3 linked regions of the Homo sapiens genome follow. The protein of the gene in region 2 purifies or fractionates together with the protein of the main gene of each other region. This does not show direct contact. Each region holds a gene or a part of one and is shown on either strand. Other genes may lie near its edges.

Region 1 (7,022 bases), on a different chromosome or scaffold from region 2:
CATATATGGAGTCCTTGCTGTGTGCCATGCCTTCTTCATGGCACTCGCATTGCTGTAGTTTGTTGAGTTTTGGCATGGCCCCATGAGGCAGATAGTACTATTCAGTTTTAGATGCTTCTACAGACTGACTCCGTGGCAGAGTCAGGTTGCCATGCAGTAATTTCAGAAGGAGCCCCTATTGGCCATTTTCTACAACCTTTTTTCTTATTCCCTCTCTTTTTCTCCCTTCTCTGGCTGGCTGTGATTCTGTAATTCTTTCTGATTCATTCCAGCACAGTTTGCTGCTTTTCTGAAACAAAATATGCTGGTGAGGAAAGCTCTTCCTCCTGGCACCTCCTCCTGTCTCTTTGGTGAGTATTACTCTTTCTTGCCTGCTCGTCCACTACATTCTGCTCCTCAACCCCTTATTTATTTTCCATCTCTGCCTCTCATCTGCCTCAGTTTGGTTTCCTCCTGTTCTTTTCTCTCTCTTTCTTTGTATTCTTTTGTTTTGCTGACCCCTTTTGCTTACTCTGTAGTCTTTGCCCTTTTTCCATTCTTTTGTTTGCTTCTCATGGTGTTTTCTTTTTTGTCTCTTAGTGTGGTTCTTTCTTTCACTACGGTCTTGGCTCTGCTGCTTTTTTGTATGTCTGTGGCATTGCCTGAGTCTCAGTTTCCTTGTGTGTTTTTCTCCCTGCCTCCTGTCCTGTGTTTATCTGGTGGCTACAAGCCTACCAGCCACATATCAGCATAGAACCTGAAACTCCTTTCCCCTACACCCTCCTTCCTACTCTGATTTTAGCCAGTGCATTTGTCCCCTAAGCAATCCTTCTAGCTGGTTATGTCCTGACTGTTGCCTCATGCCAGGACCCCTCCTCCCTCCTCATGTGACTGCTACCTTCCTCCCCACACCAGTCTTTGCTTCCCTGTGCTACAAGAGGACTAGGGTGGACTTCTGGGTTTAAAGAGGAGGGAATCTTTGAGGAAGCTTGAAAGATAACCTAAGAGTCCAAAAAGCTTGGCTGTATACATGATGAGCCTGTTTGATTCAGTGGAAGTGGAAGCCCATGTGTGAACAGATGGCCTTTGTCTGTACTAGTACACATGACCTGGGGACTAGGTTGTGACATGGGCCAGTGTTGCCCTGTTACTTTTGGGTGGGAGCCGTGAGGTTGCCTGGTTGAGGTACTCTCTCTCCTAGTAGCTACTCATAGCCAGCTTTTAGTCCTGGTGACACTCCTCTTCATTGCCTCCATTTGGCAAGTGGATCCTCAACTGTGGGCTCTTAGGGCAGGGTGGGACTCTTGAGAGCCTTTGGAAAACTCTACTTTTTAGAGAGGACTGGATGACCTGCTCCTCCATGAGTTCTCATAGAATGTTTGATGTCTCCAACTGTGTGATGATGTGGGGAGGGCTTCAGACAGGAAGATGATCACATTTTTTGAGTCTGAGAAGGACTGTTTACTCATTCTGTTGAATCCTCTATTTTTGTTGTTGTTGCCATTGGCCTTGGCTAGGCAGGGTCAGGATGTCTTCTGTCTTTTAATTCCTACCAACTCAGGGCCCCTTCTCTTCCGATTCCAGTGCAGGATGAGGGATGAGAAGGGTGCCATCCTCTAAGAAGGGCAAAGTGGGGTCCCCCACGGACAGGGCCTGAGTGAAGTGGTCCTGAAGCATGGGCAGTCTCCTTTGAGGGGTGGCCCTGTACGTAGAGTGGTTATCCTGTGTGTTCTACATTCTACACATGGCTGTGTTGGTGCTGGTATTGACTGAGTGTCTGTTGGGATTTTTTGGATTGTGGAGGATCTCAACTCAGCTCCATGTCTTAGTTCCCATTTCATCAGAACCACCAGAGGAAGGAGAGAAAGAGGATCTTAGGGTTCAGCTGAAGCGACACCATCCCTCGAGTCCCCTTCCTGGCAGTAAGACCTCCAAACGACCGAAGATCAAGGTGTCCCTTATCTCCCAAGGGGACACAGCTGGAGGGCCTTGTGCTCCTTCCCAAGGAAGTGCTCCAGAAGGTGAGTTTCTCTTGGTACGTTAAATGAGAACTGAGCTCTCTCAGGTACACAGCATTGCCCTTTGGTGGCCATTCACCAGCATGTCAGCCTTTGCTTTATTTTGAGAGATGCCCGGAGCAAAGAAGACATGAGTCTGTACATGTGGGTAAAGTTGGCATGAGTCCATCTGAATGAGGACCAGGCAGGCAGAATATGAGAGGAAGCTGTGCCATCGTTCAAAGCATCCTATATTTTGTTCTTTTTTTGTTGGCTTCAATTAAAGGTACAGAATATTTCAGGAAGTTTAGAAAATAGAAGGAAAAAATAACCCCAACTCTCCCTACTCTAGCATAGTTCATCTTTTTTCATTTTCCAGTTTTCGTCCGTAATATCTTGCATTTAGCCTAAGCTGTGGAACCTGGAAACATAGAGGCCAAATAGGACTGACCAGGGGCCTTGGGGTTTTCTGTTTTGAAGCTGCAGGTGGGAAGCCCATCACCATGACACTGGGGCAGGCTTCAGCAGGGGCCAAGGAGCTCACAGGACTTCTCACCACAGCCAAGTGAGTGTTTATTGGACCATCTGTGTCTATTCCTTTTTTCCCTTCCCTCTGTTTCTGGTTTATTTAGTGCTTTGGAAAATGATGGATTCTGGATTCTTGTCAGTTTTGGAAATGTGACTTACTTCTGATTGGGATCTTTGTCTTGCTTTTGAGTCAACCCAGAGTTCACTTTTACTTAAGACTCCAAATCGTCCCCTGGCTTTTGCTATAAGTCCTGTAAGTAAGGACTTTTAGAAGACTAGAGGCCAGGTACAGAAAGTGGGACAAAGAAGCTGAAGGTTTTTGGTGTATGTCTGCTGCTGAAAGCCTTGCTGGGCCCCACTCTGTACCCTGCCAGTGTTGCTAGGGCTTGCTGTCCTGTGACCTTTGGATAACAGAGCTCCTTCCTTTGTCTCCAGGTCCAGTTCTTCTGAAGGTGGAGTCTCAGCCAGCCCAGTCCCTTCAGTGGTCTCCAGCAGCACTGCACCCAGTGCCTTGCACACACTGCAGAGCCGCCTGGTGGCCACATCTCCTGGCAGCTCCCTCCCAGGTATCTTGTGGCCCAGCATTCTCCCCTTCCAACACAGAATTTTTGGTCTGCTGCTTCTGGGTGGTCCTGGGAAAGCATCCCTGGAGCTAAATCCATAGGATGGGCCTCTGGGTCTTAGAGTGATCATAGAGGCTTGACGTGAAGCTGGAATTAGCTTGGGCAGAGGGATTCCTTGGCCTTGAATAAATGCAGTGAGTAAATGTCCTGGTCTGCAAGTGAGTAAATGTTCCAGTCTACAGGTGCTGTATCCTCTACTGTAAGGAGAAATAGCCGATAGGACATATATGTATAGTCAGCCTTTCTTATCCACAGGAGATTGGTTCTAGGACCCTCACCACTACCAAAATCCATGGATGCTCAAGTCCCTTATATGAAATTATGTCATACCGTTGGAATTCTATATCCACAGGTTTCTATCCGTGGTTGTTTGAATCTGCAAATCTGCTGTGAAGCTCACAGATAATTGAGAGCTGACTGTGGTTTTACTTTGCTGTTTTAAGCACATCTGCCTGAATAAAACTGGAAATGGTGCTACACTGGGCATTAGCAAAATGAGACATTTTTCTGTCTGTGCTTGTCTCTCTCTTTGTCCTACCCACTAACCCTACTTTGAAAGGCCTGTTGCCTGAGCCCAGCAGGGCCAAGGCATTGCAGAAACCCTCTCCTGGCCAGGCATGGTGACTCACACCTGTAATCCCAACACTTTGGGAGGCCGAGGTGGGTGGATCACCTGAGGTCAGGAGTTTGAGACCAGCCTGGCCAATATGGTGAAACCCCGTTTCTACTAAAAATACAAAAAATTAGCCGGGTGTGGTGGTGGGCACCTGTAATCCCAGCTGCTTGGTAGGCTGAGGCAGGAGAATCGCTTGAACCCAGGAGGTGGAGGTTGCAGTGAGCTGAGATTGTGCCATTGCGCTCCAGCCTGGGCAACGAGAGCGAAACTCCGTCTCAAAAAAAAATAAAATAAAATAAACCCTTTTCCTTTAAGAGAACCTTTCTTATTGCTTTGAGGCTACTTCCTTACTGCTTTGATTGTGTGAGGCGAAGTGAAAGTTGGATATTTATAATTCTTTTGGCTTAAAAAGTTCTTCCCTGGAAAGAAAGGAACAAACTTGGATTTCTCAAAATGGTCTAAAATGTATGACTGATGGTTTGCAGCAGGTGCAGAGCAAGTCCGGGGCAGTGTCTGGCACAGTACCTTTCCTGTGTGGCATCCATTGCGTGTGTGCCTAGTTGGGGAGAGCTTCCTGCCTTCTCTCTGAGGACGGGTGTCCAAGGGCAAGCACCACTGGTGTTTTAGTTGGTGGTGAGGGTGGATGGATGTGGCTGCTCTCGGGATAGTGCAAGTGATTGAGTCTCTACTGATTCCTGCTATGTCCTCTCTTAGGGGCCACATCAGCCAGCAGCCTCCTCCAAGGCCTCAGCTTCAGCTTGCAGGATATCAGCAGCAAGACCTCTGGCCTTCCAGCAAATCCCTCCCCAGGACCAGCCCCACAGGTGCACATCTGCCATCTGCTGGGCTGGGCAGGTGTAGGGAGGAGGCCTCCTCAGCTTAGTTGGTTTTGGCAGGGAAACTAGGTCTGGAGTCAGTGGATCAAGGACAAACAGCCTTCTAGCTACATAGCAGGGAACTTACAAAAGTTAAGGTCTATCATTTACTGTGTGACCTTGGGCAAGTTTCTTGACCACTCTGTTTTTGTTTCTTTGTCTATAAAATGAGGTAATAATAGTACCTCCCTCATAGAGTTGTTATAAGAATGAAATAATATATGCAAAATGCCTGGAAGAGTACCTTGCATGTAGTAGGCACTCAATACATGTTAGCCTTTAATAATATGCTGTGGGCCCTCCAAGCTCGAATGTTGCTGTTGGGCGACAGCTTCTGATCACCTGGGCTTGTGTGTCCCACAGGCCACCAGTGTGAAGTTGCCCACCCCCATGCAGAGCCTGGGTGCCATCACCACGGGCACCAGCACCATTGTCCGTACCATTCCTGTGGCCACCACTCTCTCCTCCTTGGGTGCCACTCCTGGTGGGAAGCCCACAGCCATCCACCAGCTGCTGACCAATGGGGGCCTCGCTAAGTTGGCAAGCAGCCTCCCTGGCCTGGCTCAGATCTCTAACCAAGCATCAGGTGAGTCTCTCATGAGAACTGTGGGGACTCCCAGATCTGGGATCTTTCCCCCAGGACCTTCCCATCTCATGTGGGCAAGGTATGATGTTGAAACCAGTCCCACAGGGTCCTGGCATTGACCTTTGGATTCAGCTGTGTGGACCCATCCCCCAGAGAGGTTGAGAGAACACAGGCTGTTTCCTGTTGCCTTTCAGATTGACTGATAGGGCATAGATGACCCAGCTGGGGAGGAGGCCAAGGGACTGTGTTATGTGGGGGAGAAGCTCTCCAGGAAAGGAAAGCCTCAGTAGAAGGTGGAGAGTGTGACTCAAAAATTCTGCTTCTCTCTCTTTATCTCAGGCTTGAAGGTCCCCACCACCATTACTCTGACACTTCGTGGCCAGCCGAGCAGGATCACTACACTGAGCCCTATGGGCTCAGGAGCAGCCCCATCCGAGGAGTCCTCTTCCCAGGTGCTGCCCTCCAGCTCACAGGTGAGTCTGCCAGGAAGGACTGAGGACATGGGCTTCATTATTGGGAAGTTTAAGACCAGCTGACTGGCTGATTGAAGGGGCTGCCCATGCACTGGACAGACGAGATTCAGATTCAAATTCAAATCTGTATTCTGGAGTTTGTGGCTTTATAATATTGAGCGAATCATGGACATCTTTGAGCTTCCTCTTCTACATCCCTCCCTTGATATTGTGAAGAGTACATATGTTCAAGTGGGTAGCAGTGTCTAGTATTTAATGTTTTTGTTTACTTTTCCTTTCGTTTCATTTTTTTCTCATCCTTGGTTTCATCCTTCAGAGGTTATGAGTAGAGGCTACTTGGCTAATGCTCTTTCTTTGTTTTTATTTTTATTTTTTGAGATGGAGTCTTGCTCTATCGCCCAAGCTGGAGTGCAGGGGTGTGATCTCGGCTCCCTGCAACCTCCACCTCCCCGGTTCAAGCAATTCTCCTGCCTCAGCCTCCCAAGTAACTGGGATTACAGGCGCCCGCCACCATGCCCGGCTACAACAGGGTTTCACTGTGTTGACCAGGCTGGCCTCGTACTCCTGACCTCAAGTGATCTACTTGTCTCGGCCTCTGAAAGTGCTGGGATTACAGGTGTGAGCCACCGCTCCTGGCCCTTTCTTTGTTTTTAAGGACATGGAGACAGAGATATCTCACTATGTTGCCCAAGCTGGCCTTGAACTCCAAGGTTTAAGTGGTCCTCCCGCCTCGGCCCCCAAGTATAATACTCTTTCTTTGACATTGGCTTTCTAGCACTGTGCCTTCCCATATCTTAGCATTTATTGCTGTCTTTTTAGGGCACAGCTAGGTTTTTATAGGTCTCACCCAGGAAGTCATGATTAGTTTCTCTTAGCTGATCTAATTTCCCCTGTGACCTTTTCAAGTCAAATATTTCTAATCTTAAAATGGTAATCTGAGGAGCCACTCAAAGATTAGAAGTTAAGCCAAAAAACAGTTTGAGTCTAGTACTGAGTGTGCTTTCCTTCAGTATCCGCTATACAGCCAAGGCCTTCCTGTGTCTCCCTGTCCTTTCCACCATGTCAACCTGCTTGTGAACTGGAGGTGCAGTGATAGTTCCTGAGCCATTCTAAAAGCTCTTCTGTCTCTTCCTCTTTAGGGAAAATACTGCACAGAGGTCAACACCTGACATTCGTTGGGATCATAGCTACCTTTTTTTGCAGAGGGATGGAAATGTTTTAATTTTATCTTATTTCTTATTTTTTCAATTATAAAAATGATTATGCTTATTTTAAATAATTCAAACATTATAGAAATAATTAATTTAGAAAGGGAAAGTTTCCCATGATGCTACTCCTAGAGATG
Region 2 (7,022 bases):
CTCTGGCTTTTACTCCTCAGACACCTGTGGCCCTGCAGGAGCATCCTGTAAGCCTTCCAACTCAGCTTCGCTTTCAAGAGATTCTTTCTTTCCTTCCCCGGAATCTTCAGGATTGGAATCCTTTTGAGAGATACCTACTTCAGCCTCTGGTTGCTCTTCATTAACACAGTTAGAATTGACATCAAGTTTGCCGTCTGATTAAAAAAAGAAGAAGTTATTTTGTTCCTACCATGTGTCAGACACTCTTCTCAATGCTTTACATGTATTATTTAATCTTCCTATCAACTACATGAGGTATATTAGTATCTCTACTGTCATCGCTAACGTTATTTTACAAATGAGAAAACTGAGAAGAGAGAGGTTTGGTAGCTTGCTGCAAGTTTCCTGGCTAGTGAAACAGCAGAACCAGCATTTGAACTCAGGCCGCTGGCTCCAAAGCCATCTCTAAATCAAGATTGTTGCTTGGGATTTGACAAAGCCTGTATTTGAATACAGCTTTTCTGTGAATTTATTTGATGTCCTTGGAGAGGTAATTGCCTGCATGAAGTTGTTTCCCTTGTCTATAATATGCAGGTAATAAAGGCTATCCTACATTGGTGAAGAATAAAGTTGTCTGTAACATTTAGAGCAGTGTTTGGTGCATGAATGATGCTTAACAACTGGGAGTGCCCATTCTACTGACAATCTTATTCTCCCTCAATAGTGTGTTAGTAATGAACATTTGTTACTTTCTGTCCTTAGCACATAGAATAAAAAAGTTTGGTCAAGAAAACAAGAGAAGGCATGGCAGTCAGAAAGCCTGACTATTCTCTTAAGGATAAATGGTTTAATTGTGTACAAACCATTTAATTCCACTGAGAGTATATCTCAACCCAGTAGTAAAGCGGATATGGTTCCTTGAGAGATGGAGGCAGAAATGCCTGGTATCAGAATAACCGAGGCATCTTTTTCAAATTACATGCACTCCCCCAGAACATATGATACATTCTCTGGAATGAGGCATGAGGGTGGGGGCAGTTCTCCTCTCCAATCTGATAATCACTGCTGAAGCAACTCACTATTTCTGATGAAAATGGGTCACAAAACCTCAAGAGGGATGGAGAAAAAAAAATACAAAATTCACTGCTATGACACTTGTAGAAATTTGATCTGTATATTAGATCTGCAATTTAATGAATGATTTATAAATATACTCTGTAATTTCACCTGTAGTTCTGAAATTTAATTAAGGAATTTAAAGGCTTCCACCCTTAAAATCTTCTGGTAGCCATTAGTGGAAATTTAATTAATTCCCTTATTCAAAGACTTTAAAATCCTTCATGAGCAGAATATAAGTTAATACCCATTAAGGGTCCCATTGTTCCAGGGCAGTAACCTAAGCTAGAATGTAAAATATGAAATAAGCTACATCCCTCAGAATTTGATGTCTCTGTTTTCCAGTGATGTCCAGGCTGACTATATCCTAAGAACTTAAAAACGGGACACATTAAAATTTAAATGTGATTCTTACATCGGTCACTCCTGAGCTCCTATGGCTTCCAGAGAAGACGCAGTTTCAGTGTGTTAAGATCACCTATCATCTCTCTCTCCACTAAAAAGCAGAGTGAACTCGGTTTTTATATACATACGGTTTTCCTCTTGTCTCTTTTCTTTGGCAGCCTCCAACTGTTGCTTTTCGTAAATGTCCTTCAGATTCTTACAGATTTTCTTATGAGTAAACCAGTGTGTTTTCTGGCAGGTTTGATCACAATATATTACCTGAAAGCAATTGTTGGTTTATTTTCATTTCCAGAGCTTGGGTTGTATGATTTCCTAACTATGACTAAACCAAGAACTAAGCTATAAAAATGTCATTTTCCATACTTTATTTTAAAACCATAATATGTGGTTGATATAGTTTGGATGTTGTCCCCTCTAAATCTCATACTGAATTGTGATCCCAAATGTTGGAGGTGGGGCCTAGTGGGAGGTGATAGGATCATGGGGGCGGTTTTCTCATGAACAGTTTAGCACCCTTCCCTTGGTGCTGTCCTCACAATACTGAGTGAGTTCTTACAAGATCTGGTTGTTCAAAAGTATGTGGCAACTCCCCCACCTCCTCTTGCTCCAGCTCCTGCCATGTGACATGCCTGCTCCCCCTTCACCTTCCACCATAATTGAAGGCTTCCTGAGACCTCACCAGAAGCTGAGCAGATGCCCATGCCATGCTTCCTGTATACCTTCAGAACCGTGAGCCCATTAAACCTCTTTTCTTTATAAATGACCCAGTCTCAAGTATTTCTTTATAGCAACGTAAGAACGGCCTAACACAGTATCTTTGTATTGATTTAGATTTATAGTTTGTAGCTTTACTTTAAAACAATAATGAATATATAACAAACAGTCTACCAAAGACTTTAGCAAATAGCTTATTATGAACCCGCTATGTGCCAGAATTGGTACAGTACAATGACAAGGAAGATAGAGTTGTCCCAAAGGTAGCTAGCATCAAGAAAAAGAAAGATATGGAAGAAGGGAGAGAGGCAGGCACCTAAATACATAATTTCTTAACACAGTACAGGATGTAAGAGTGATGGAGGCATAGAGGAAGCAGCAACTCACTCTAGCTGTGGTGAGTCGAGGTAGACAGAAAAATGGGAAAGAAGAATTCTAACTGGAGAAAATATCTAGTACAAAAATGCAGGAACAGGGAAGTGAATGATATGTTCAAGAACAGCAAGAAGTTTTTGTAAATGGCCTTATATTTTTGCAAGTAGGGGTGGAAAGGAGATGGGAATGAATGTTATTAAACACTTACTGTATGCCAAGCACTGTGGTAGGCCCTTATACATATATTGTATTATTGGCCCCAATTCTTCATTCATCCTTGCATTCATACACTTTCTCACATGATTTCAAAGTTCTCTGCACTGAAGGGGAGGAGACTTGACTTCAGATTGGGCCATGTAATTTGTTTCAACCAACAGCATGAAACAACATGGCAATTTCAAGGCTAGTCCTTGAGAGGTCTTCTGTGTTTCTACCTGCCCATGTGTACCTTTGCTATTGCCATGACAACATGCTCAGCCTAGCCTGCTAGTACAAGAAGGATGAGAGTCACATGGAGCACAACTGCCCCAGCTGAGAACAGCCAACCACAACTGTGAGAGAAAGACTAAATGATTATCATTTTAAGCACTGAGTTTGAGTGTGTTTTTATAAGCAGTAATAATTAACCAATATAAATAGTTTGATTTAATTCTGGAATTTCATTTAATTCAGGAAACAGGTTCAGAGAAGTAAGTCATTAAACAAGATGAAGCTGAAGAAGTAGGTCACAGCAGATTATAATGGGTTTCATACAACATGCTGGAGAATTTCAACCTTAAAGTCAACAGGCAGTTGATGCTACCTATGGGATTAAGTGAATGTACGGACACATGCATGTGTCCAGTATCTGGATATGAGAACAACACAATCAGATATGCCTTTTACAAAGATAATTCTGGCAGAAGGGGGCAGTACAGTCCATAGGGATTAAAGACTGGTAACAGTCAGAAACTATAGTTTTACAAGGATATGTTGATGAAGACACTGTCATTAAAGTCAACATCAGAAGAGTAAAGAATGTATATTTATGAACTGTCCTATTCTAGGTTTCACATCTGCACCAGCCTTGGTCTCGTGCCCCACGGAAAACCTTTCTCTTATTTTCTCATATTCATTCATTCATATCCTTTCTTTCCATGAGGTGATCAGCAAAGAGGCAAAGGAAGACTGGCAGTTTAGCAGAAGACAGACACAGTAAAGAACTATATTGATCCTATTAATTCTTTTCCAAAACTACTTTTTAAGTATTAAATAGAATATTTTCGTTACTAGAATTTATTAGAAAACTAATGTCCACTCTTACAGAATATTAAAACTCAATCATCAGCTTGGCTGCATCTAAACCAGAGGTCAATGAAATAAAAAGAACTCCATTCTTACCATTTTGCAAACTGAACATCTTTTACTTGCTCCCTTTTCTCCACAGGTAGTGCAAAATTCCACATCCACAAAACCCACCTGGCCAGTGATGGCTTGGGTAAGGACGGAGAATGCAGTGGGATCAGAACCCTAGAGTGGGCATGAAGAGGAGAAAAAACAAATTCTGAAATCACCATGGAAACACTACAGAGGTATCAGCCCACGGACACTGCCGTCCTACAATGTGACACAAAAAGGAAGAAATCATTAAGGCTATAGATTACACAGGCTTTAAGACAAAATGACAAAAATCTTTTAGAATATACCATTTTCTGTACAAAACATATGAAAAGTCAGTCATATGTCCAGATAATTAAAGAGAAAAAAACACCCTTAATCTAGAAAAAAAGTATTTTTCCAATAAGGATAATTCAGTAAGCCCATAGCGTTTCAGATTTAGGACAATAACTCCAGAGCAGAATTTTTTTCTGAGAACTGACATCCAGAAAATATTCATATTCCATGAGACAATTATAGGGCACATCAAAAATGTTTAACTGTCTTAATTCTGAAAAGTTTAGTACAATCTAAGTATTTTAAAGACAATATATTTAAACTCATTTACTTGATGTTGGCTTGTAATTCAAATAAATTATCACCATTATAATTGGTATGTTCCAAATTTGTTAAGAAACACACATGCAGCAATTGAATCAAAGTATTAAGAAAAACCAAATGTGTGAAACTTACTACTAGTGGGCAATGGAAAATTAAAATAGGTTAAAAAATATTTATAATTTTTATCTATTTTTATTTTTTTGAGATGGAGTCTCTGTCACCCGGCTGGAGGTGCAGTGGCTCGATCTTGGCTCACTGCAACCTCCGCCTCCCAGGTTCAAGCAATTCTCCTGCCTCAGCCTCCTCAGTAGCTGGGATTGCAGGCGCCCGCCACTACGCCCAGCTAATTTTTTGTACTTTTTTTTTTTTTTTTTTTTTTTTTTGAGACGGAGCCTCGCTCTGTCGCCCAGGCTAGAGTGCAGTGGTGTGATCTCTGCTCACTGCAAGCTTTGCTTCCTGGCTTCATGCCATTCTCCTGCCTCAGCCTCCCAACTAGCTGGGACTACAGGCACCCGCCACCACGCCCGGCTAATTTTTTTGTATTTTTAGTAGAGATGGGGTTTCACCGTGTCAGCCAGGATGGTCTTGATCTCCTGACCTTGTGATCTGCCTGCCTTGGCCTCCCAAAGTGCTGGGATTACAGGTGTGAGCCACCACACCTGGCCAATATTTTGTAATTTTAGTAGAGACAGGATTTCACCATGTTGGCCAGGCTGGTCTCAAACTCCTGACCTCGTGGTTCGCCCGCCTTGGCTTCCCAAAGTGCTGGGACTACAGGCATGAGCCACCGCGCCTGGCCTATAAACTTTTTTTACAAAGAAAATTATAAGGGGCTGGGTGTGGTGGCTAGCGCCTGTAATCCCAGTACTGTGCGAGGCCAAGGCAGGCAGATCATTTGAGGTTAGGAGTTTGAGAGCAGCCTGACCAACTTGGTGAAGCCCCGACTCTACTGAAAATACAAAAATTAGCCAGGCATGGTGGCACGCCTGTAGTCCCAGCTACTTGGGAGGCTGAGGCAGAAGGATCACCTGAGTCCGGGAGGCAGAGGTTGCAGTAAGCCGAGATCGTGTCACTACACTCCAGCCTTGGTGACAGTGCAAGACCTTGTATTTAAAAAAAAAAAAATTATAAGGGTAAGCATTTATCTGTCTGAGACGATGCTACTAAAACCTATTTAGCAAAAAATAATCACAGCGTTTCTATTTTTCTTACCTACTCCTAATAGTTCTTTGTTCTGAGTTTTTCAAATTTGTTCATTTGTTCCAAACCAGCATTTTGACACTCTTTATAATTTTCATTTTCATTTGAGTATTTGCTTTTTCTTCCTAAGAATATTTGTTTTTATATTATCTTACCAACTGTACATAATAGAGGTTTAAAAATATCACCTGGTAACAATGTCCTACACTGTTCTGTATACTCAAGATAGTCAAAGAAAATATTCAAAGATTCAAGAAGTATTTTAAAAGTAGCACTCATTTTGAAACTACCATGTTCTTCTTGAATACAAATAATAATGACTGGGTCTGCTTTCACATGAAAGTGCTACGAATTCTCTTTTGTGCTGAGCCTTGAGACAGGCAGAAGCCAGAGTTCCACAGCAGCAGAGGGAACCAAAAGCTGAGCAGGAGGGCCCAGGCATTAGCACTGTCAGAAAACAACACAGTGAAGCTCACAGCAGCCAGCCCTGAGAACCATCGTATGCGGGGAAAAGGTTGGGCATCACTTCAGAGGGTTAGAACTTGCAGAATATGAAAACCAATTAGGCAGTAAACAATGGCTGTGATACGCACAATCACAGGCATTTGGGATGAAGTCTTCCAGACAGAAGAACATAAAACTCTCAAAGAACAAAAATGTTTAAAGAAAAGTCTTTCTAAAATGCATTAAATACTATCTTAACTTTATTATAAACCTTTTCTTGATGACTCAGATCACTGGGATAAACATTAATCATTATACTCTAGGCCGGGTACGGTGGCTCACGCCTGTAATCTCAGCACTTTGGGAGGCCAAGGCGGGCAGATCACTTGAGGTCAGGAGTTCAAGATCAGCCTGGCCAACATGGTGAAAACCCGTCTTTACTAAAAATGCAGAAACATTAGTCGGGCATGGTGGTGTGTGCCTGTAGTCCCAGCTACTCGGGAGGCTGAGACATGAGAATCGCTTGAACCCGGAAGACTGAGGTTGTAATGAGCTGAGATTGCGCCACTGCACTCCAGCCTGGGTAACAAAACAAGACCCCCCTCAATAAATAAATAAAAATAATAATAATTATACTCTATAAACTCTAATTACATTATTCTATTATATGGAGCTAGGATAACTTGTTGACCACAATATTGACCTGCTTTTTTTTTTTTTTTTTTTTTTTAAAGAACTCTGGGTTGCTGTTTTAGTTTTTCTGTTTTTTCCCAGGAAGGTAAAAGGTCAGCAACCATTTGTGAGTGCTGGAA
Region 3 (7,616 bases), on a different chromosome or scaffold from region 2:
TCTGGGCACGCCCTGCCTCTCCTGACACCCAGAAGGTCACCGCTTCAGAGCTGACTCTACCCCAGCCCCACTAACCACAGAACAGAGCTGGCGTGGGAGTTAAGACATCTCTACCAGACAGAGCACTGCAGGGGCAGGAAGTGGGGGAGCCTCTCTTGACCATCATTGGCACGAGGCTGGCAGGCTGGGCACCAAACCCAGATGCAGACATCTCCGCCTCATTCTCTGGTCACCGGCTTGCTGGCTCCCCAGGGACACACACTGCCTACTGTCCCTCAGGTCCCCTGGTCTCTGCAGCCCCTGAGGGCCTGGCACTTGGTGGGAACACAATACTATAATAGTTAAGCTGAGGCCGAAATTCCACCCCTTCCAGTAGAAAGCGTGCTCCAGGACCAGCAGAATGCGTGCTTTAGGACCAGGAGACCCTACGTCACAGTGGCCGGCATGACTGTCCCCATTTGCATCCCCACACCACACCTTCAGTGGGGAGACCACCATTCTCCACTTCATAGAACTCCCCAGGCACCCCGAGCTCCCGGAGGCAGGAAATATGACAACTGCGTCTTCCCTCTGTGCAGCCCTTCACGTATCCTAATGCGCTTTCCCCCACATCTCCTGCAATCCTGACAACAACCGTGTCATGCAGGCAGAGCGGACGTTATCCCCATTTGACAAAGGGGCACTGAGTCCACACAGCTAGTCAGTGCTGGGGAGAGATGGGAATCAAGGAGCCCTCTTCCCAAGGGAGGTCCTCCTTGCCAGGGTCACTGACAGGGAATGGCCAGGACAATGCTGCCTCAAGACCAGCCCTGGGTGGGCCTTCCTGTCACACACTTAGACTGGGCACAGGTGAAGAGTGGCCCTGAGGCCCAATGCCCTGACATCCTCCTTTCCCTGGGGCCAAGCACAGGCAGACTCCGGGTAATGGCACAGGGGTGAAAAGGCAGGGACTAGGGAGAGAGGTGAGAGCCCCGGAGGCCCCCAGGACACATTTTGACTCAAAGGCAAAGCAAACAGCAACTCCAACAGGTCCCAAGTTGGTGAGAGCTGCAGGAGAGGACGCTGTGGGGGGACAGTGGGCAGGACTCACCTCCCGCAGCAGCTGCATCCCCTTGAGCTCCTCCTGCTGCTGCTGGGCCACGGTGACCCCCAGGACCAACGTGTGCACCACACAGGAGACCACGGAGATGATCACGATGGGGCTGAGGCTGAGGGGCAGCGTGATGAAGAAGGAGAAGACAAAGAAGACCTGCCAGCCCACCGTGTCACTAGCCGCGTGGGCACGCGCGAAGTTCAGGCCCAGGTAGGAGAAGATCTGGGCGGTTATGAGCAGCCACAGCACGTAGGGCAGCACTCTGCGGGTGACCCGGTCCGGGAGCAGCCCCTTTTTGCAGAGCACGAAGAGGATGATGTCCAACACCAGTCCAATTCCAGCCACGGCGAGGGAAGCCAGCTTGTCGCTGGAGAAGACCACAGCACACATGACCACCACGTAGCAGTCAAAGAGGGCTGCAAAGACCACCAGCACCAGCAGGGTCTCGTGGCGCTGCCTTTTGAAGTAGGTCTGGTAGAGGTTCTCCAAGGACTCCGGCACGAAAGTCAGCCGCATGAAGCGAGGCAGGCACAGGCAGGAGCCCGAGTTCCGGACCGAGATTTCATGGGTCCGGCCCACCCCGCGGTCAGGGTCGGAGGGCAGGCTGACGGAGTACTCGGCTGAGTACTCGGCCGAGTATTCGGGCTCGGAGAAGCCCTGGTTCCTCGGCATACTGGCTGGTGTCTGCTACTGGCCCTAGAGAAGTGGACTGGGAACGGAGGAAGAGCTCTGGACTGGGCCTCCTCTCAGGGCTCTCTGAGACCGGGGGAGGGCTGAGGGCCTCTTCTTGTCTGGGGCGGAGGGGAGGCCACCTCCAGCAGGAACGCAGAGCGGGTTTCCAGAGCACAGGTAGCACTGATCAGCTAGAACTGAAAAGGGCATTGCTGAGTAGAAGCACCTCTTCCCTCCTACCTTGCGGTTTCCCCATGACCCGCCCTAACCCTCATAAAAGGATCTCTGCTGCAAGAGCCTCCCAACCCAGGGCCTTCCCTGCCACCCCCGGCTCACACCACCGCCCACCGCAGGCACACTTAGTCCTGTCCACGCCAGACACTCAATTTCCTGTCCCTGGCTTGTGGAAGGGCCTAGCCGCCTTTCCATCCCTGGTAACCGGTTTCTCTCTGTCATCTCTTCTTTCTCAGTCCCCGACTTCCTCACCTAAATTCCCTCCAGGCCCAGTCCTTAGAAGCTGTAAATAAAATGTGCCGGAAAGAAATCAGGACCATCGTGGGGGATTCCTGAGCCTTCCTTCTGTTTACTTCCTTTTTCCACCAAACCCTTGGAGGCTCGGGCTCCGATCCGGCCCCCTTCCCACGCTCGGGGCGCTGTCTTCCCCCCCGGAAGCCTGGCCCTGCCCCTGCGTTTACCTGTGCGGGAACTCGGCCACCGCGTGCTCCGGGACGGTCCCCGCGCGGGCTGGGGCGGGAGAGCTCGGCGCGCCCGAGGGCTGCTCCCCGCAGAGCCGCGCCGCCCCGGCAGCGCCTCGGGGCCCGGCCGGAGCGCGATCTCCCGCCGTCAGGCCCGGGATCCGACCGGGAGAGGCGCAGGGCTGCCCCTCAGCATCCGCGGGCGCCCGGCCGCAGGGGGAAGGAGGAGGCGGCGACGAGGGCTGGGAGATCCGTGGGCGCCGGCCCAGCGCGCCCGCCCTGGGGCTGAGGCTCAGGGGCAGGGGCCGTGCGGGGGCCGGCAGGCGCGGGCGGCGGCGAGCGCGGCTCTCCGGACCCCTCCCCTGCACCCGCGGCGGCGGCGGCTGCTAGGGGCGCGCGCGGGGCCCTCCCCGGCGGGAGCGCGGGCCGAGCCCGGGGAAGCCCGCCAGCATCCTCTCGCCCGCCCGCGCCGAGCCGAGCCAGCCGAGTCCGGGCTCGGCGTGCTGCACAGCTATTCCCCGCGCGGCGCCGGCGGCTCCGGGGCCACGCGCGCTCCAGGCCCCGGGAGGCGGGAGGCGGGAGGCGGGAGGCGGGCGGGGCGGCCCCTCCCTCGCCCCAGTCTCCGCCCTCTCGGCGGCGCGTTCCGGAGTGGGGCGGCGAGGGAGGCGCCGGGCGGCGGTCCCAGGACCCGCGCGGGCGAGAGGTGGAGGGGCCCGGGCGGCCCCCGATCCGGCGCGGGCGGCGGGCTGGGGCGATGGCTGCGTGGAAGCGCGGGCGCGGGCGCGGGCGTGGGCGGTGGGCGGTGGGCGGCAGGGCTGGGGCGAATCCACCCCTTCCAGCGAGGAGGCCCGGTCTAGGAGGATGGAAGCCCGGGACGCGCCCGCCCGCAGGTGAGGCGCGCTCGGGGCACCCCGCCGCCCCCTCCTCCGCCGCGGCTTCCTTCCGGGCCGGCAGAGGCCAGGGCTCAGGTTTGGGGACCGCTCCGCCGCGGGGCACGTGGGGCCTAAGTATCCCCGCCCACCCCGGGAGCCCAGACTCCGGAGCGCCGGGCCTGAGCTTTCCGCAGAGGGGCTCGGCAGCGGAGCCCTGTCCTGCTCCCAGGAGGCGGGTGGCGGTGGCCCGGTGGGCACTACACACGTGGAACTGGAAGAGTTCCTGAGACCCTGCTTCGAAGAGATTTCCCGTGCACATTCTACCCGTTTGAGATGTGTTTGAGTTCACAAACTGTCCCTTAAAGATGCGAATGCTCCTTTGAATAGTTAAACCTATCAGTCTCTTACACCATAGTATAAATTATTTTCCTTGCATTTGACAGAACACCGTGCTAAGATCAACTACAGGCTTTGGGAATTTAAATAAAGGAAGAGGAAAGAGATAGAATGTTTTGGGACAAAAGGGACAAAAGCATGTGTGGGAAGGTAAGTGCTGAGGACAGCCAGCAGCAATAGGGGGTCATCTCCCCTGGGGAGAGCTGAAGGAATGAACAGAGGGGAGAGAAACTTGGCTATCCAGACCCTGGATGGAGCTGCCACCCCATGCCCCTGAGAGTTATCCGCGGGCACCCCTTCCAGAACCTCAGGCATCACCTTGCATCCCTCGGGGAATGGATCCATTAGAGAATCGATCCTGCCACTGCTGTTTCTACCGTTCCCTCACACTCTGTCTGAAAAGGCGCCACCTTCAGCCCATACTTCGCAGGGCTTTGATTCCAAAGGTAGGGGACCTAACATCAGATATAGGAGTTTGGTAATTTAAATAAAGCAAAACTTTGCCCCATTGTTTTATTTTATTTCTATTTTTTATTTTTTCGAGACTGAGTCTCACTCTGTCACCCAGGCTGGAGTGCAGTGTTGTGATCTCAGCTCACTGCAACCTCCACCACCCAGGTTCACGCAATTCTCCTGCCTCAGCCTCCTGAATACCTGGGATTGCAGGCACACACCACCAAGCCCGGGGTAATTTTTGTATTTTTAGTAGATGGGGTTTCACTATGTTGGCTAGGCTGGTCTTGAACTCCTGACCTCAAGTGATCCGCCCACCTCAGCCTCCCAAAGTGCTGGGATTACAGGGATGAGCCACTGCTCTGGGCTGCCCCATTGTTTTAATTTGCTGGAGGTTTTTGGGTTTTGGGGGGGATTTTTTTTGGAGGGAGTTATTTGTGGTTTGTTTTTTGTTTTTGTTTTTTAAAAAGGAAGGCATTTATTTATTTATTTATGAGACAGAGTCTCACTCTGTCGCCCAGGCTGGAGTGCAGTGGCCATCTCAGCTCACTGCAACCTCCGCCTCCTGGGTTCAAGCAGTTCTCCTGCCTCAGCCTCCCAAGTAGCTGGGATTATAGGCACCTGCCACCATGCCTGGCTAAATTTTGTATTTTTAGTAGAGACAGGGTTTCATCATGTTGGCCAGGTTGGTCTCGAACTCCTGACCTCAAGTGATCTGCCTGCCTCAGCCTCCCAAAGTGTTGGGAATACAGGTGTGAGCCATCATGCCTGGACTTTGCTGGAGGTTTAAACATTTATTTTGAATTGTCACATGATGTTAAAGAGGACATGACTTTTATGTTTTACAAAGGGAGATGTAATGTACGGCAAGGCGCAGTGGCTCATGCCTGTAATCCCAGCTCTTTGGGAGGCCGAGGCAGGCAGATCACTTGAGGTCAGGAGTTCGAGACCAGCCTGGCTGACATGGCAAAACCCTGTCTCTACCAAAAAATACAAAAATTAGCCGAGCGTGGTGGCGGGTGCCTGAAGTCCCAGCTGCTCAGGAGACTGAGGTGGGAGAATCGCCTGACCCTAGGAGGCAGAGGTTGCAGTGAGCCAAGATCGTACCACTGCACTCCAGCCTGGGCAACAGAATGAGACCCTATCTCAAAAAAAAGTGGGGGTTGGGGGAGAGATGTGCTAATGTTTTTTAAAAGGCTGATAAATCTTGTGCTTGGTCCTGCTTTGGCACAAGAGACACCATGTTGCACCCTCTGTGGGTCCCTTCCCCTTCCTTGGCATACATGCCAGCCCTGTGATTCTCAGTGTGGCACCCTGTCCGCAAGGCCATGCCCAGCTCCTAAGCTGAGAGGGTTCTCTGCTGGGCCCTCTGCCACCACTCATGCCCCAGCCTCCCACCCCATGAAGGGAGAGAGTTCCACACAGAGGCACCCTCATATAAAAAGAACAACAACAAATTGATCCCTGCCTCTCCAGCCCCTGCCTGCTGGCTTCACTGTCCCACTCCCTGTTCTTCCACCATCCCTATCTCTCCTCTGTGGGCCCCTGTTCAGCGGGCACTGGGGAAACCAGAGGAGCCTTATAGTTCTGCCAAGGCACCATGTTGACTCATGAGGCAGACCCTCAGGTGTACACAGGTTACAGTTGGGGGTGACTTCTGGCTGAGGTGATCAGAGACAGGGCCTTTCAGGGCAAGAGGGAAGGATCTGATGGGCCTGAAAGGCAGGCGTTCCAGGTGGCTGGAGCCTCCCTGCAAAGGCCCAGCCGCAGGAAGAGCACAGCACATTCCCATCCCTGCTCCGCGTTCAGGGTTCTGGCACGGCCTTTCCCTGTGGATATGGGAAACGCAGTGGGACAGCAGTAGGCCCTTGCGAGGACTCCCGGGGAGCCAGAAGCATCTGGGTGAATATTCCTGGGCAAGAGAGCTGCTTGACATCCTGCCACAGAGGAGATCAGGGAAAATGCCGCGAGGGCCTCATCCATCTCACTCACAGTGGCTTCCCCAGTACCTGGCACCTAGTAGATACTCAAAAAATAGTCATTGAATGAATGGAAGTCTCCCTAAGAAGAAATGGTACTTTATAAAGGCACTGGCTGTCCTTGAAGGGACCAGCTGGCCTCATTCCCTGATACTGAGAATGTCCTGGTCCCAGGGCAATGAAAAATATCCACCCTCGAGTGAAAAGGGTGGGATTATGGGGGAGCTGTTTTCACTTTCCAAGCTATACATTTTGTATTGATGTAACCTGGACAACTGGCATGCTTCGCTTTTATAATCAAATGATACAGGAAATCTATACACACACAACTCAGGACCTCAAATGGCTGCATGGGTGACTTGCCCCTGTGGCTTGTCCTAAAAGGAAGACAGAATCATAGACTTAGGTCGAAGCTTGGAGGGCATCCTGACCCCCCCCAACCTCAATCCAGCATCTGCCTGGATGGGATGCCTCTTTGCTGAAGGCAACTTTTTGTTTGTGTGGTTCAAGACTAGAAATCATGGCTGAGAATTAATTGTTACTGGATAAACAAGAATGGTTTGGCCCCCCCGGGGAATGTGGTGGCTCTTGAATCCAGCAAACAATAGATCAGAGCAGAACTCTGTGTCCTGGGGGAAAACAGAAGTGGGAGAGAGAAGATCATTAGCTCCCCTGGTGCTGGGCACCAGGAGAGCCCTGTCTGGGGCCTGAAAGCAGAGCTTGAGACCCGGCCTGCATGCAGGTGGTTCAACTGGGGAAGTGATTCCAGGGAAACAGAGCAGGAGCCTGGGAAGCTCAAAACAGAGAAGGCAGGAAAGCCGGTAAATATGAGGGTTTGTGACGGAGTTGGCCACTGGTGTGGGAGGGGGCCTTGATCCTGCTGGGACCCTCTGATGAGCCTTGCAGAAGGCACCTCAGAGCTTTCCACTGGAGGGCTGGCAAAGGTGGGTGTTCGTCCTCCTTTCATCCTTCCCTGTTGGTTAAGGGTTGCCAGTTGGGGTATTCTCTCCCTGGCTCTTGTGCAAAGGAGGCTAAGCAGTGAGCGGACTGGGCAGGAAACGAGGGATCCTCAGTGCAGATACCTGGCAAGGTGCTGCTGGGGTGTGCCTGCAGCAGTAACGGGAGTGGAGAGGGGGACCGGGGGGATGTGGCATGTGATACTCAAGCATCCTGTGCAGGGCCCACACCCCTCATCCATTCCTGCTGGCTCAGAGGCTCAGCAGTTTGGATCCTGTCACCTGGAGGAGAGGTGTGTGGTACCCTAGGGAAAGCTGGCTCCCTGGAATCAGAGAGCTCAGTTTTGAGCATGGCCTTGATGAGAGCTGAGCACCTCGGACCAATTACTCAGCCCCCACAAGCCTGTGTCTCTGTGGTGCAGTGACAGCACTAACCCTTAGTCAGGATCCTTGTCAGGAAGTAGGGGATTCATGGGACCAACATGGTGGGCAGATCTCAA

What was found. The genes of interacting proteins can lie anywhere in the genome.
Region 1: the proteins of ANKMY2 (region 2) and KANSL3 purify together in Homo sapiens (affinity purification with mass spectrometry; 2 studies listed by BioGRID and IntAct, with this or other methods). This does not show direct contact.
Region 3: the proteins of ANKMY2 (region 2) and ADCY3 purify together in Homo sapiens (affinity purification with mass spectrometry; 2 studies listed by BioGRID and IntAct, with this or other methods). This does not show direct contact.

The regions. Positions count from the first base shown.
Region 1 is NC_000002.12:96,600,298-96,607,319, reverse strand, and holds part of KANSL3 (KAT8 regulatory NSL complex subunit 3), read left to right. Parts: intron 1-272; coding exon of another isoform or gene 273-350; intron 351-1,782; coding exon of another isoform or gene 1,783-1,808; coding exon 1,809-2,000; intron 2,001-2,456; coding exon 2,457-2,541; intron 2,542-2,939; coding exon 2,940-3,070; intron 3,071-4,457; coding exon 4,458-4,567; intron 4,568-4,981; coding exon 4,982-5,204; intron 5,205-5,543; coding exon 5,544-5,677; intron 5,678-6,816; coding exon of another isoform or gene 6,817-6,846; exon of another isoform or gene 6,847-7,022. UniProt on the Homo sapiens protein: Non-catalytic component of the NSL histone acetyltransferase complex, a multiprotein complex that mediates histone H4 acetylation at 'Lys-5'- and 'Lys-8' (H4K5ac and H4K8ac) at transcription start sites and promotes transcription initiation.
Region 2 is NC_000007.14:16,600,752-16,607,773, forward strand, and holds part of ANKMY2 (ankyrin repeat and MYND domain-containing protein 2), read right to left. Parts: intron 4,161-7,022; exon of another isoform or gene 4,099-4,160; coding exon 3,970-4,098; intron 1,759-3,969; coding exon 1,629-1,758; intron 195-1,628; coding exon 10-194; 3' UTR 1-9. UniProt on the Homo sapiens protein: May be involved in the trafficking of signaling proteins to the cilia.
Region 3 is NC_000002.12:24,917,223-24,924,838, forward strand, and holds the start of ADCY3 (adenylate cyclase type 3), read right to left. Parts: upstream 3,016-7,616; 5' UTR 2,461-3,015; intron 2,364-2,460; exon of another isoform or gene 2,252-2,363; intron 1,963-2,251; 5' UTR 1,766-1,962; coding exon 1,091-1,765; intron 1-1,090.